3 separate regions of the Homo sapiens genome follow, and all the other regions are linked to region 1. The links come from fine-mapping of genetic effects on gene expression. A gene starts in region 1. Each other region holds a variant in brackets. All regions are shown on one strand. Distances are from middle to middle.

Evidence for each region.
Region 2: its variant is fine-mapped to the expression of ERP27 in whole blood (TOPMed, PIP above 0.99).
Region 3: its variant is fine-mapped to the expression of ERP27 in thyroid (GTEx, PIP above 0.99).

Annotation. Positions count from the first base shown.
Region 1 is chr12:14,936,922-14,941,034 of GRCh38, forward strand. It overlaps ERP27 (endoplasmic reticulum protein 27), which reads right to left and starts at 1,616. Exons shown (of 7, transcript NM_152321.4): 1 at 1,494-1,616; 2 at 1,031-1,131. The coding sequence starts at 1,587. RefSeq lists an enhancer at 1,072-1,131.
Region 2 is chr12:15,079,585-15,083,697 of GRCh38, forward strand. No RefSeq gene overlaps it. Among named protein-coding and RNA genes, the nearest start is that of RERG-IT1, 33 kb to the right of the region's middle. The variant C/G (reference allele first, on the strand shown) is at 2,059.
Region 3 is chr12:14,521,899-14,526,011 of GRCh38, forward strand. The region is part of intron 6 of PLBD1 (phospholipase B domain containing 1); the gene reads right to left. Among named protein-coding and RNA genes, the nearest start is that of PLBD1-AS2, 6.2 kb to the right of the region's middle. The variant T/C (reference allele first, on the strand shown) is at 1,855.

The sequences.
Region 1 (4,113 bases):
TGGGGTCAAGCAGAGGGAGCTGGTATCTACTCTTCTAGAGGCCATGAACAATAATTAATTGAGGCCTCCTCTCTTATTCTGCTCCTTCAGATGGAATTGCTGGAGGATAAAATGATGGCATCTGGCGGCTGTTTAAGTTATTGCACACTCCTCCAATTCCATGCTCTTGCCCCTTCCCCATCTTTCTGACGGTGTTTTTGTCTACAGCTCAGATTTCTCATTCCTGAAAAATGTTGTCCCTGTCTTTCTCCCTGACTTGCATCTCATTGCAGTGATTTCCAACTGTGTACGCAGAACTGACAGGGTAATCAGGAGTTGTAACTGAGAAATGGAAACAGACAAGAAGGTCTGCTATGAGAGAGTAGGGGCTTGATCAGCTGTGAGGATTTCCAGATGCTACCACCAGAGAAAGATGAAAATGCTGGAATGAGGCAGTCTCATTTATGGCTGCCTTTCTTAGTCAAGAAGCTAATCTGGAAGATGGAGGTTAACACCTTGAATATACAAAATGCCATCATTTTCCAACATTTCAGACAAGGCAAAGAGAAAGAAGGAGAGTCTACCATATTTGGGGGAAAGGCTTTAAAAGGCTGTGCACTGACTAATGTCCAGGATGTTTGGCATCCTGTAAACAGTGTTGCTGGATGATATAAATTGGGTTCACTCTGGCCCCTGCCTATTCATAGGGTGCTATGAGAGTATAGACCAAATGTGTTTAGGACAATGGTGGGGTTCCATGAAGGCATTCTTTCTGCAGATACTGACTTGAGCTTCAAAGCATCCATAGATGAGGAGATGCAGCCCACAGGCTCAGAACTCTTGAAGTAAGTATGAGAAAGATATAATTTAGAGACTGGGAATGTCTTGAAAATAAGAGGTCCCAATGGACAAGATGAAATCAAACTGGGTGGCTGTCTCCCTTTACCCCCACTTCTAATGCAGTGCCATCTGCCAGCAGCAGGTGGCTGCTGTGGTTCCCTTAAGGTAGAACATTTCTGGCTCTTGGGGGAATTGCAAGTAGGGAACTAACCTGGAAGAAGCCTATGACAGCCACCTCAGTGGCAGCAATGAATTCCATGGCAGCTGGGACATCTGTGAGCCACGTGGGTTCCTGGGCAGCACCAGGACCATCTAGAGAGAGAAGCAGAAGATGTCAGGGTACTGAGGCAAGAAGAAGCAGCTCTAAATAATGAGGGCATCTATACCTTTTATCTCTATACTAAGGGCAAGAAGAGCACAATTTATAGGAGTACTGTTGGCATTCCAAGGCATAATATTTTTACTAACATATGGAAGGTGACCCTACTGATGGTCTGTCTCTGAAGGATACTGCCAGACTTCCCTACTCTCTACCAGGCAAAATGCACTTATCCAGGATTTCCTGGAAAGCTTTCTAGGTGTGGAGGAAAAGTACCCAGAGAACCACCATGCTCCCTTTCCTTCTCCTAATAACACTTTCACACTATAGCCACCCAACTACATTTTTCTTTTACCTGAGGATTTCTCAACTTCTGCAGCAACTTCTGCAGCCAGCTCACACGTGAGGAGAAATAAGAGGAACATGAACCTGGACGGGGCAGCTTCCATTGTCCCTCTCCTGCTCCTGCTCCAACCCTGGACTTTGTGTTGGGGAGGCCGACTCAGGGCAGCCTACTCTGTAGCTGATTGGCTGTGGGGTTGTTAGGGCTTTGGGAACTTTGCAGCTGGCTCCAGGGGAGCCTTCAACTTCTGAGATAAAAGACCAAGGTTAGTAATAGGGACTCAGAACATATCCAACCAGAAGAAAGTCAGGTCAGTTTATTTAAATAAAAAATGTAAATATGCTATGCCAGGCATTGATCCTAGCGCTAAGAATAGAAAGATAATTATGATCTGATCCAGCCTCTGCCAGCTTAGATTATCAGTGGGAGAGATGGGCAAGTAAAAAGATTATTTAAATATAAGATGGAAAGTGATATAGAAAAATTCATAGGGTGCTATGACAATACATATTAAGGGTATTAGGGACAATGCTAGGGTTCAATGAAAGTGTTCTTCCTGCGGAGGATGCCGGAGCAGAGTTCTGGGTAAGTAAGATTTTGCCAGGCAACACAAGGTAGAAAGGGAGTTTCATGTAAAGAACTAAAGCACAGGCCGGGCGTGGTGGCTCATACCTGTAATCCCAGAACTTTGGGAGGCTGAGGCAGGTGGATCACGAGGTCAGGAGATTGAGACCATCCTGGCTAACATGGTGAAACCCCATCTCTACTAAAAATACAAAAAATTAGCCAGGTGTGGTGGCGGGCGCCTGTAGTCCCAGCTACTCGGGAGGCTGAGGCAGGAGGATGGCCTGAACCCGGGAGGCAGAGCTTGCAGTGAGCCGAAATAGCACCACTGCACTCCAGCCTGGGCGACAGAGCGAGACTCCGTCTCAAAAAAAAAAAAAAAAAAAAAAAAGAACCAAAGCACAGATATGCAAATATAATGTGTGACAGAATTACTAGTAATTGAGAATGATGAAAAGGAAGGAAGTGATACATGTGGACAGAAAGGCATGTTGGGACCAGCTCACAGCAGGCTTTATATGATACACTAAGCGCGGGAGCATCAATTTTATTCTGTAGGTGATGGGAACCACTGAAAAGTCTTAAGCAGAAGAATGAGATGAAGTTTGATTTTGCTCACAAGTGTCTGAGGAAGTCCAAGATGAGATTTCCACAGGCATTGGGATATGTAGTTTTAAGCTTAGGAGAATTTTCATGTGAAAATATTACAAAAGAAATTAGGAAGCCCTAGCCAGGGCAATTAGGCAAGAGGAAGACATAAAAGGCATCTAAACAGGAAAAGAAAAAGTCAAACTATTTCTCCTTGTTGACAATATGATTGTATGCCTAGAAAGCTCTGAAGACTCTGCCAAAAGGCTACTGGAACTGATGAATGATTTCAGTAAGGTATCAGGAAAAAAATAAGTGTACAAAAATTAGTGGCATTTCTATACAGCAATAATGTCCAGGCTGAGAGTAAAATCAAGAACACAATTTCATTTACAATAGCTACAAATAAAATGAAATGCCTAGGAATACAGATAACCAAGGAGGTAAAATATCTCTACAAGGAGAAATACAAAACACTTTTGAAAGAAATCAGAGGTGACACAAATGAAAAAACACTCCATGCTCATGGGTAGGAAGAATCAGTATCTTCAAAATGGCCATACTGCCCAAAGAAATTAACAGATTCAGTGCTATTCCTATCTAACTACCAACGTCATTCTTCACAGAATTAGAAAAGAAACTATTCTAAAATTTATATGGAACCAAAAAAGAGTCTGACTAGCTAAAGCAATCCTAATCAAAAAGAACAAAAACAGAGGCGTCACATTACCCAACTTCAAACTATACTACAAGGCTACAGTAACCAAAATAGCATGGTACTGGTACAAAAGCAAACACATAGACCAATGGAACAGAATAGAGAACCCAGAAATAAAGTCATATACCTACAACCATCTGATCTTCGACAAAGTTAACAAAACCAATCAATGGGGAAAGGATTCCCTACTCAATAAATGGTGCTGTGATAGCTGGCTAGCCATATGCAGAAGAATGAAACTGCACCCTCATCTTTCACCATATAAAAAGTTAACTCAAGATGAATTAAAGATTTAAGACCTCAAACCATAAAAGTCCTAGAAGAAAACCTAGGAAATACTCTTTTTGACATTAATCTTGACAAGTAATTTTTGGCTAAGTCCTCAAAAGCAATTGCAACAAAAACAAAAATTGACAAGTGGGACCTAATTAAAGAGGTTCTTCAGAGCAAAAGGAACTATTGATAGACAATCTACAAAATGGGAGAAAGCATATGCAAACTATGCATCCAACAAAGGTCTAATATTCAGAATCCATAAGAAACTTAAACAAATCAAGAAGCAAAAAACAAATAACCCCAATAGAAAATGGGCAAAGAGCATAAACAGATACTTCTGAAAAGAAGACACACAAGAGGCCAATAAGCCTACAAAAAATGCTCAACGTTACTAATTATCAGAGAAATGCAAATCAAAGCCAAAATGAGATACAATCTCACACTAGTCAGAATGGCCATTATTAAAAAATCAAAAAACAACAGACA
Region 2 (4,113 bases), 140 kb after region 1:
TTCAGCACCAAATAATTCCTCTTGGCTTCAGATAATATAAATTCTTTCAAATTTTTTAAATCAAATTAATTCTTTTCATGTGAAATCCATTGTCTTTAAGTTACTAGTCAATCAAATTACTACCTTCTCTTCCAAGAATGTTAAAGTTGGGGGTAGGGAGAATAGTCCAAATTTATTGCCTTTGAATTTTTATCTCCAACCCATCGTCCCATGTCAATATGATTTTTGATGTCTTTGCTTTGTGGAATGTTCTGTACAAGTTCAATGACTTTTAGTTTATCTGAGACAATAGATTTATCTTGCTTTTCTACCTGCTTGACCTGTGCAGCATTTGTCATTAGTAACAATCATGCTTTTCTTAAAATCCTTCTTATATTACTCTGTTTTTGTATCACTAACTGCAATAAACTGAATGCTTATGTTCCCCCAAAATTCATATGTCAAAATCCTAACCCCTAAAATGATGGTATTGGGATGTGTGGAGCCTCGTAAATGAGATTAGTGTTCTTATAAATGAGACCCCAGAGAACACTTTCATTCTGTCTGTCATGTGAGTTTATAAGGAGAAGCCTGCTGCCTATGTGGAAGTGGGTCCTCACCAGACACCGAATCCGCCTGAGCCTTAACCTTGGGCTTTTTGGCCCCAAGAACACTGAGAAATATCTTTGTGTAGTTTATAAGCCACCAAGTTTATTTTTGTTATAGCAGTCCAAACAGATTACGATGTTGACAATACTTCATTGTCATCTTGATTCTATGTTCTCTGTAGGTATCTAGAAAATATCCGCCCTCAACACATATTCTTTCTGTATTTTCTTTTAGTCATTCTAATTGACTCCTGTGGCTTCAACCATCACCATTAAGCAACTGATTTTCTTGACTGTAGCCCTAAACTTTCTCTCAGGGCTCATATACCTACTTTTTTTTTGAAACTGTGGAATTAATGAAATAGCACTGGATTGAGCACTTCTGATTACTTTGTAGAAAATTGACAGTAATTTACTCCACATTTGTGGGGATCCCTGTCTTCTTCCCAAATCCTTACTAGTTCCTAAGCCCCATAAAGGCAAAGACAGAAACTTATTTGTCTGTGTAGATTTTGCAGTGCTTTGGAAACAGTTGATAAACATTTTGCAGAGCAAATGTTTACCATCATATATGTTTGAAGGCTCTATTAATATTCCAAGGATAATTGTCCTGCTAGTCACCAACTAGATTTTGAGTGTGCCCTTTTTTACAGCAGCCATAAAAGGTGAATTTTTTAAACAACAAACAGGGCCTAAATACTCTGCAAAAGAAGGATGGAAGGATGTGACGAGAGGAGTCAGGGAATGGAAGACTGGATGGATTGATTCTGAGAGGGGTAAAGTCAGAGGGAAATCACAAGGGCATTTTAGGTACAGGAAATCCATTCCATGATTGGAATCTGTTCACCTTCTTTAGTATAGAACCCTTTTCCAACACTCTCAATTCTCCAGTGAAAATGACTACATTCATGAATAATTTTGGCAAGTGTTTTTTTCTTTTTCTTTTTCCTTCGATCCTTAGAATTAGAAGAAGATTGCGTTCCACAGCTAGACCAATTGATTGAGGACCAGAGAGATCAGATATTTGGAGACAGATGTGACAACAAGAAAATTTATAGAAATTTTGGAAACATCTGTAGACTTCCATAGGCTATGAAGTTTCTATCTGGGTCTTGATGTCTCAGTCGATTTCTAAATAATAGTAACATTTACAATGCACCATTTAAAAAATATCATAAAGGCTGGGTGCGGTGGCTCATGCCTGTAATCCCAGCACTTTGGGAGGCGGAGGCATGTGGATCACTTGAGGTCAGGAGTTTGAGACCAGCCTGGCCGACATGGTGACACCTCGTCTCTACTAAAAATACAAAAAAAAAAAAAAAAAAAAAATTAGCCGGGCATGGTAGCGGGCGCCTGTAATCCCAGCTGCTTGGGAGGCTGAGGCAGGAGAATTGCCTGAACCCAGGAGTTGGAGGTTGCAGTGAGCCAAGATCAAGCCATGGCATTCCAGCCTGGGTAACAGAGCAAGACT[C/G]CATCTCAAAAAGAAAAAAAAGAGAAAAAAATACCATCAAATGTAATTTCTTATTTTTCTTGATATACCTAAGTTCCTCAAGGACAGAATCATACCTTATTCATTTTTTGTTGTTTCTTCCTTTCCTATCCCTAAAATACAGACCAGTGAATTACAGGATGAATTATATAGTTGATCAATTTAAATGAATGAAATGAGTAAGTTAATGAATTTAAGCTAATTCCTCACTGTTTACAGCCAATAAACAACCAGATTACCTTGATTTCCAAGATGGGGAGTCTTCCAAATGTGTTAGCAATTATATAGATTCAAGGAAACTACAAGGTTAGTAGTTCTTATACATTAATATGCTTCAAAACAAGCTGGAAGATTTGCTCAAACAATTTTGGGAGCTTCGCACAGAGTTTTTGATTCTGTAGATCTGAGGTGGGTCTCAAGATTTTGTATTTCTAACAAGTTCCCAGGTGAAGCTGATGCTACTGATTTGGAGACCATACTTTGCAAACCACTCATGAAGGTGACATTATTCAAACACACAGAATTCTCTCCATGGAAAACATTGTAGGAAGACTGTTCTTGAAATGCTTAAAAATCTCCTTCACTGCCCTGTGGCATAACAAGGTGGAAGGTACCTGTGTTGTACAGCCTCAGCTCTGACACCCACTCAGGATGACCTTAGGAAAGCCACATCATGCCTTCGTACTTCAGCTTCTTATAAAGAGGTTAACAGAAACTTTTATATTCTGCAAGCTCTTTCTAGAATGTAAACTCTGACTACAGAATTGAAAGTACATTAGCCTTTTATGAAGAATATTAACTCAGCTCTAGTGGTTCTCCAGAAGCTTTGGTTATGAGATTCTGTCATTAGCCAGACCCTGGAAAAGTAACATATTAATATTGGTTATAACTAAAACCAGAAATTGACCTTGTTCATTCTTTTATGCTTTCTCTAATACAAAGATATTGAATGTACCCGATTTGGACTGGGGTCTAGTTTTTCTCCTTCTATATCATGTAAAGTCTGCAGAGATAGGAGAATGGAGAAGTTGCCTTCTTTGACTATGTCCCAGGGGTACTTTAGCTCTTGAGTAGGTGCACAGTAATTTCAATAGAACAACCACTCCAAATGAACAAAGTCTTAAAGGAAAAGCATTTCAAACTCAGTATCTTTTTCTGTTACAAACAATATCCATATTTTAAAATCAGCCACATAGGATAAATATACTTTTATTCTCTCCCTTTTCCAAAAAAGATTTGATTCTTCATAACCATTCATAACCAGAATGCCTTTTTGGAGTTGCGTATGCATAGGGGTTGGTCTTGTATGTACAGGGATTTAGAATAGTCACATAATTTGAAGAAATAGGCAAAACCTAACATTAGTTTTGAACTTCTATATATGGTGATAGGTACCCAATGTAGTTAATAGTGAAGCATTGCCAGTTCATTTACGTGTCATTGGTAATTGTCATCGTTCATTTACTTGCCAGTTCATTACTTGTTCATGCTTATTCATTTTTTAATGGTTGACATAGGTTGACACCATCTAAACAAAGCAATGATTATATTTCTCATCCTTTCGTTTAATCTTTTGTTTGATAGAACATTGAAACAAGTTGCGTTCCAAGTGGTACCCTTTATCTGTGAGCTACCACATGCTCTGTAGAAGAGACTCGTGCGGCATCAGGGAGTCACATTCCACTGTCAAACATCTCTAATTTTTAGTTGTCTGCTCTGTATCCCTGTCAGCACCATGTATTAGACTGATGTTTCGATTCTAGCAGAAAGAAGAAAAATGATACAGGCAACACTAGGATGTAAAATTTTATGAAAATCATGGTACTTTTAGAGCAATAACATACTTTTAGACAACAATCACCTTTTCTTAATATTATGTCGAAAGTGGTTTATGTATTACAGGGGTGACAATCAACCATAGATGCCGTTTGTCCAGGGACAGTCCTGGTTTATGCCTATTTACTCAGGAAACTTACTAATAATGCTCTCTTTTGTTACCACATGCTTTAGTGTGGATGATAAACATGGTCACATTAT
Region 3 (4,113 bases), 420 kb before region 1:
AAAATCAGAAAAGCAAATCATGATATGAATAAAGAATTCAACAGAGATATCATTAAAAAAAAACTCTTGGAGCTGAAGACTTTAATGAATGAAATAAAAAATATAATGGAAAGTTCCAACAGCAGACTACACCAAGCAGAATAAAGAATTTCTGAACTGAAGACAGCTCTTTGCTTGAAGAGTGAAGAAAGCCTACAAGACCTATGAGACACCATTAAGTGAACACATTTTCACACTATAGAAACTTGAGAGGGAGAAGAGATGGAGAAGGGCACAGAAAGCTTCACAAAATAATAGCAGAAACTTCTTAAGTTTTGAGAGAGATATAGAGAACTCTATGCCAACAAATATGAAAACTTAGAAGAAATGGATAAATTCCTGGGCACATAAAACTTAACGAAAATTGAATCATGAAGAAATAGAAAATTTGAACAGACCAATAACAAGTAATGAGATTGAATTAGTAATAAAAAGTCTTCCAGAAAAGAAAAGCCGAAGACCCAATGGCCTCACTGATGAGTTCTACCAAACATTAAAGAAAAACTAATACAAATCCTTTGAAAACTATTCAAAAGACATGAAGAGGAGGGAATACTTCCAACATCTTTCTATGAGACCAGCATCACCCCGATTCCAAAACCTGATAAGGACACAACAAATAAATAAATCTATTGGCCAATATCCCTAATAAACCTAGATACAAAACTCCTCAAAAAAATATTTAAAAACTGAATTCAACAGCACATTAAGAAAAATCACTCACCATAATAAATGGGATTCATTCCAGGGATGCAAGGATGGTTCAATATATGCAAATCAATAAACATAATACATCATATTAACAGAATCAAGGACAAACCCATGAAGGGATGTTGAATCTATTGATCTAGAAAAGATATTTAATAAAATTCAACATCCCCTCATGATAAACACTCTCAACAAAACAGATATACAAGAAATGTAACTCAACACAATAAAGCCCATATATGACAAATTCACAGCTAGCATCATACTGAATGGGGAAAAGTTGAAAGCTTTTCCTCTAAGATCTGGAACAAGACACAAATGCACCACTTTTATTTAACATAATACTGGAGGTTCTAGCCAAAGCAATCAGGCAAGAGAAAGACAAAAAGAGCATCCAAATTGAAAAGGCAGAAATCAAACTGTCCCTGCTTCCAAATGACATAATCTTATACAGGGAAAACCCTGAAAACTTCACCAAAATACTGTTAGAACTAATAAGTAAATTGAGTACAGTTGCAGGATATAAAATCAATATACAAAAATCTATAGCATTTCTATATGACAATAGCAGACAATCAGAAAAAAATAAGAAGGCAATTCCATTTACTACAGCTACAAAAACAAACACTTAACTAAGCGGGTGAAAGATCTCTATGATGAAACCTATAAAATATTGACATAAGAAATGAAGAGGATACAAATGGAAAGATATTCCATGTTTACGGATTTGAGGAATTTTTAAAAAAATGTCCATACTAATCAAAGCAATTGACAGATTCAGTGCAATCTCTATCAAAATACCAATGACATTCTTCATAGAAAGAGAAAAAAATCTTTAAATGTGTATGGAACCTCAAAAGACCCCAAATAGTCAAAGCAATCTTGAGCAAAAAGAACAAAGCTGGAAACATCACACTACCTGGCTTCAAAATATACTACAAAGTTATAATAACCAAAACAGCATAGTACTGGCATAAAAATAGACATATATACTAATAAGACAGAATAAAAAATACAGAAATAAATTCACACACTTACAGCTAATTGATTTTTGACAAAGACACTAAGAACACACATTGGAAAAAATTCTCTTTGATAAATGGTGCT[T/C]GGAAAACTGGGTATCTACATGGAGAGGAATGAAACTAGACCCCTTGCTGGGTATTTATCCAAAGGAAATGAAATAAGTATGTTAAAGAGATATCCACACTCTCATGCTTATTGCAGCACTATTCACAATAGTCAAGATATGGAATCAACCTAAATGGCTATCAACAGATGAATGGATAAAGAAAATATGATACATATACATATAATGGAATACTATTCAGCCATAAAAAGGATCAAATTATGTCATGTGTAGCAATGTGGATGAGCCCTGAGGGCATTATGTTAAATGAAATAAGCCAGGCACAGAAAGACAAATACTCCACAATCTCACTCAGATGTGGAATCTATAAAAGCCGATCTCATACAAGTATAGAGAAGAACAATGCTTACCAGCAGCTGGGGAGGGTAGGCAAGGTGGAAAGGGCTTAATCAACAGGTACAAAATTACAGTTAGATAGAAGGAGAAAGTTGCGGTATTCTATTGCACAGTAGGCTTACTATAGTTAACAATACTATATTATATATTTTAAATAACTAGAAGAGAGATTTTTGAATGTCCTTACCATTAGAAAGTGATAAATGTTTGAAGTGATGAATATTCTAAATACCATGATTTGTTCACTACACAATGTATACATGCATCAAAACATCACACTGTCCCCTATAAATATGTACAATTATATGTCATTTAAAAATAAAATAAAACATAATTCTCAAAAATACACATTTCAGAGACACTATGGTGTGCTATTTTTCAAGTCCACATTTCAACCAAAAATTACCAGGCACTACAGTTAACAATATTGTGTTACATATTTCAAAATAACTATAAAAGAGGATTTTGAACGTTCTTGCCATAAGGAACTGATAAATGTTTGCGGTGAAGAATATACTAAATATGTATATACATTGTGTAATGATCAAGTCATGGTATTTGCTATATTTGTCACCTCAAAAGAAAAAGGAAGGTACGACCCCACACTTAAGTCACTGGAAACTGTTTCCAAGTAGGTCTTGATATTGGGTTTAGCGGACAAAGACAAAACAGGAAAATATGGTTTTAAGAGTTACCAGAGAGGGAATCTCAACATAAAATTAGAAATTAAAGAAAGAACAAAATTGAAATTCTAGATCTGAAAAGTACAGTAAATGAAATGAAAAACTCACTGTATACTTCAACAGTAAATTTGAGATGGCAGAAGAAGGAATTAGAAAACCTGAAGATTGTGGCTGGGCATGGTGGCTCACGCCTGTAATCCCAGCACTTTGGGAGGCCAAGGCGGGTGGATCACCTGAGGTCAGGAGTTGGAAACCAGCCTGGCCAACATGGTGAAACTTCATCTCTACTAAAAATACAAGATTAGCCCAGTGTAGTGGTGCATGCCTATAATCCCAGCTACTTGGGAGGCTGAGGCAGGAGAATCGCTTGAACCTGGGAGGTGGAGGTTGCAGTGAACTGAGATCGCATCACTGAACTCCATCCTGGGCAACAATAGTGAAACTTCATCTCAAAATAAATAAATAAATAAAATAAAATAAACAAAAAATAAAACAAAGAAAACCTGAAGATAGAAGATTAATGGGAATCATCCAATCTGAAGAACAGAGAGAAAAAGAAAACTAAATAAAATTTACAAAGCCCCAAAGACTTGTGCAAAAATGTTTAGCATCTGATGGATAAATGACTGGAGTCCCAGAGGGAGAAGAGAGAGAAAAGAGGATGGAAAAAATATGTGAAGCTATAACTGGTGAAAAACCCTTACATTTAATGAAAAACATTAATTTGCAGTTCCTACCAGCACAACAAACTTAAAATACAATAATCACAAAGAAGACCAGAGCTAGCCCACGACAAAGCTGAAGTCACCAAAAATCTAAATGCAGAAAAAAATTAGAGAGGAAAATAATATACTTAACAGCTTACTTCTCAACACACACACACACACACACACACACACACACGCACACACACACTTGTTTTAATTTTTTAAAAGACAGTAAGTTTTTAAGTAAAAAATCATAACACCATATTGGTGTATTTATAACATATATAGATGGAGCATATATATGACAACAATAGCACAAAGGATGGAAGGCACTAAATGGGATAATTACCATTTTAAGTTCCTATATATTTTTTAGCAGACATAATTGCTTATTAACTTTATGCAAATTGTGATGAGTTAAAGATGCATATCACAAGCCCCAGGGACAACAATTTTAAAAATGCAAATAAATATAGCTAGAAAGCCAACTTAT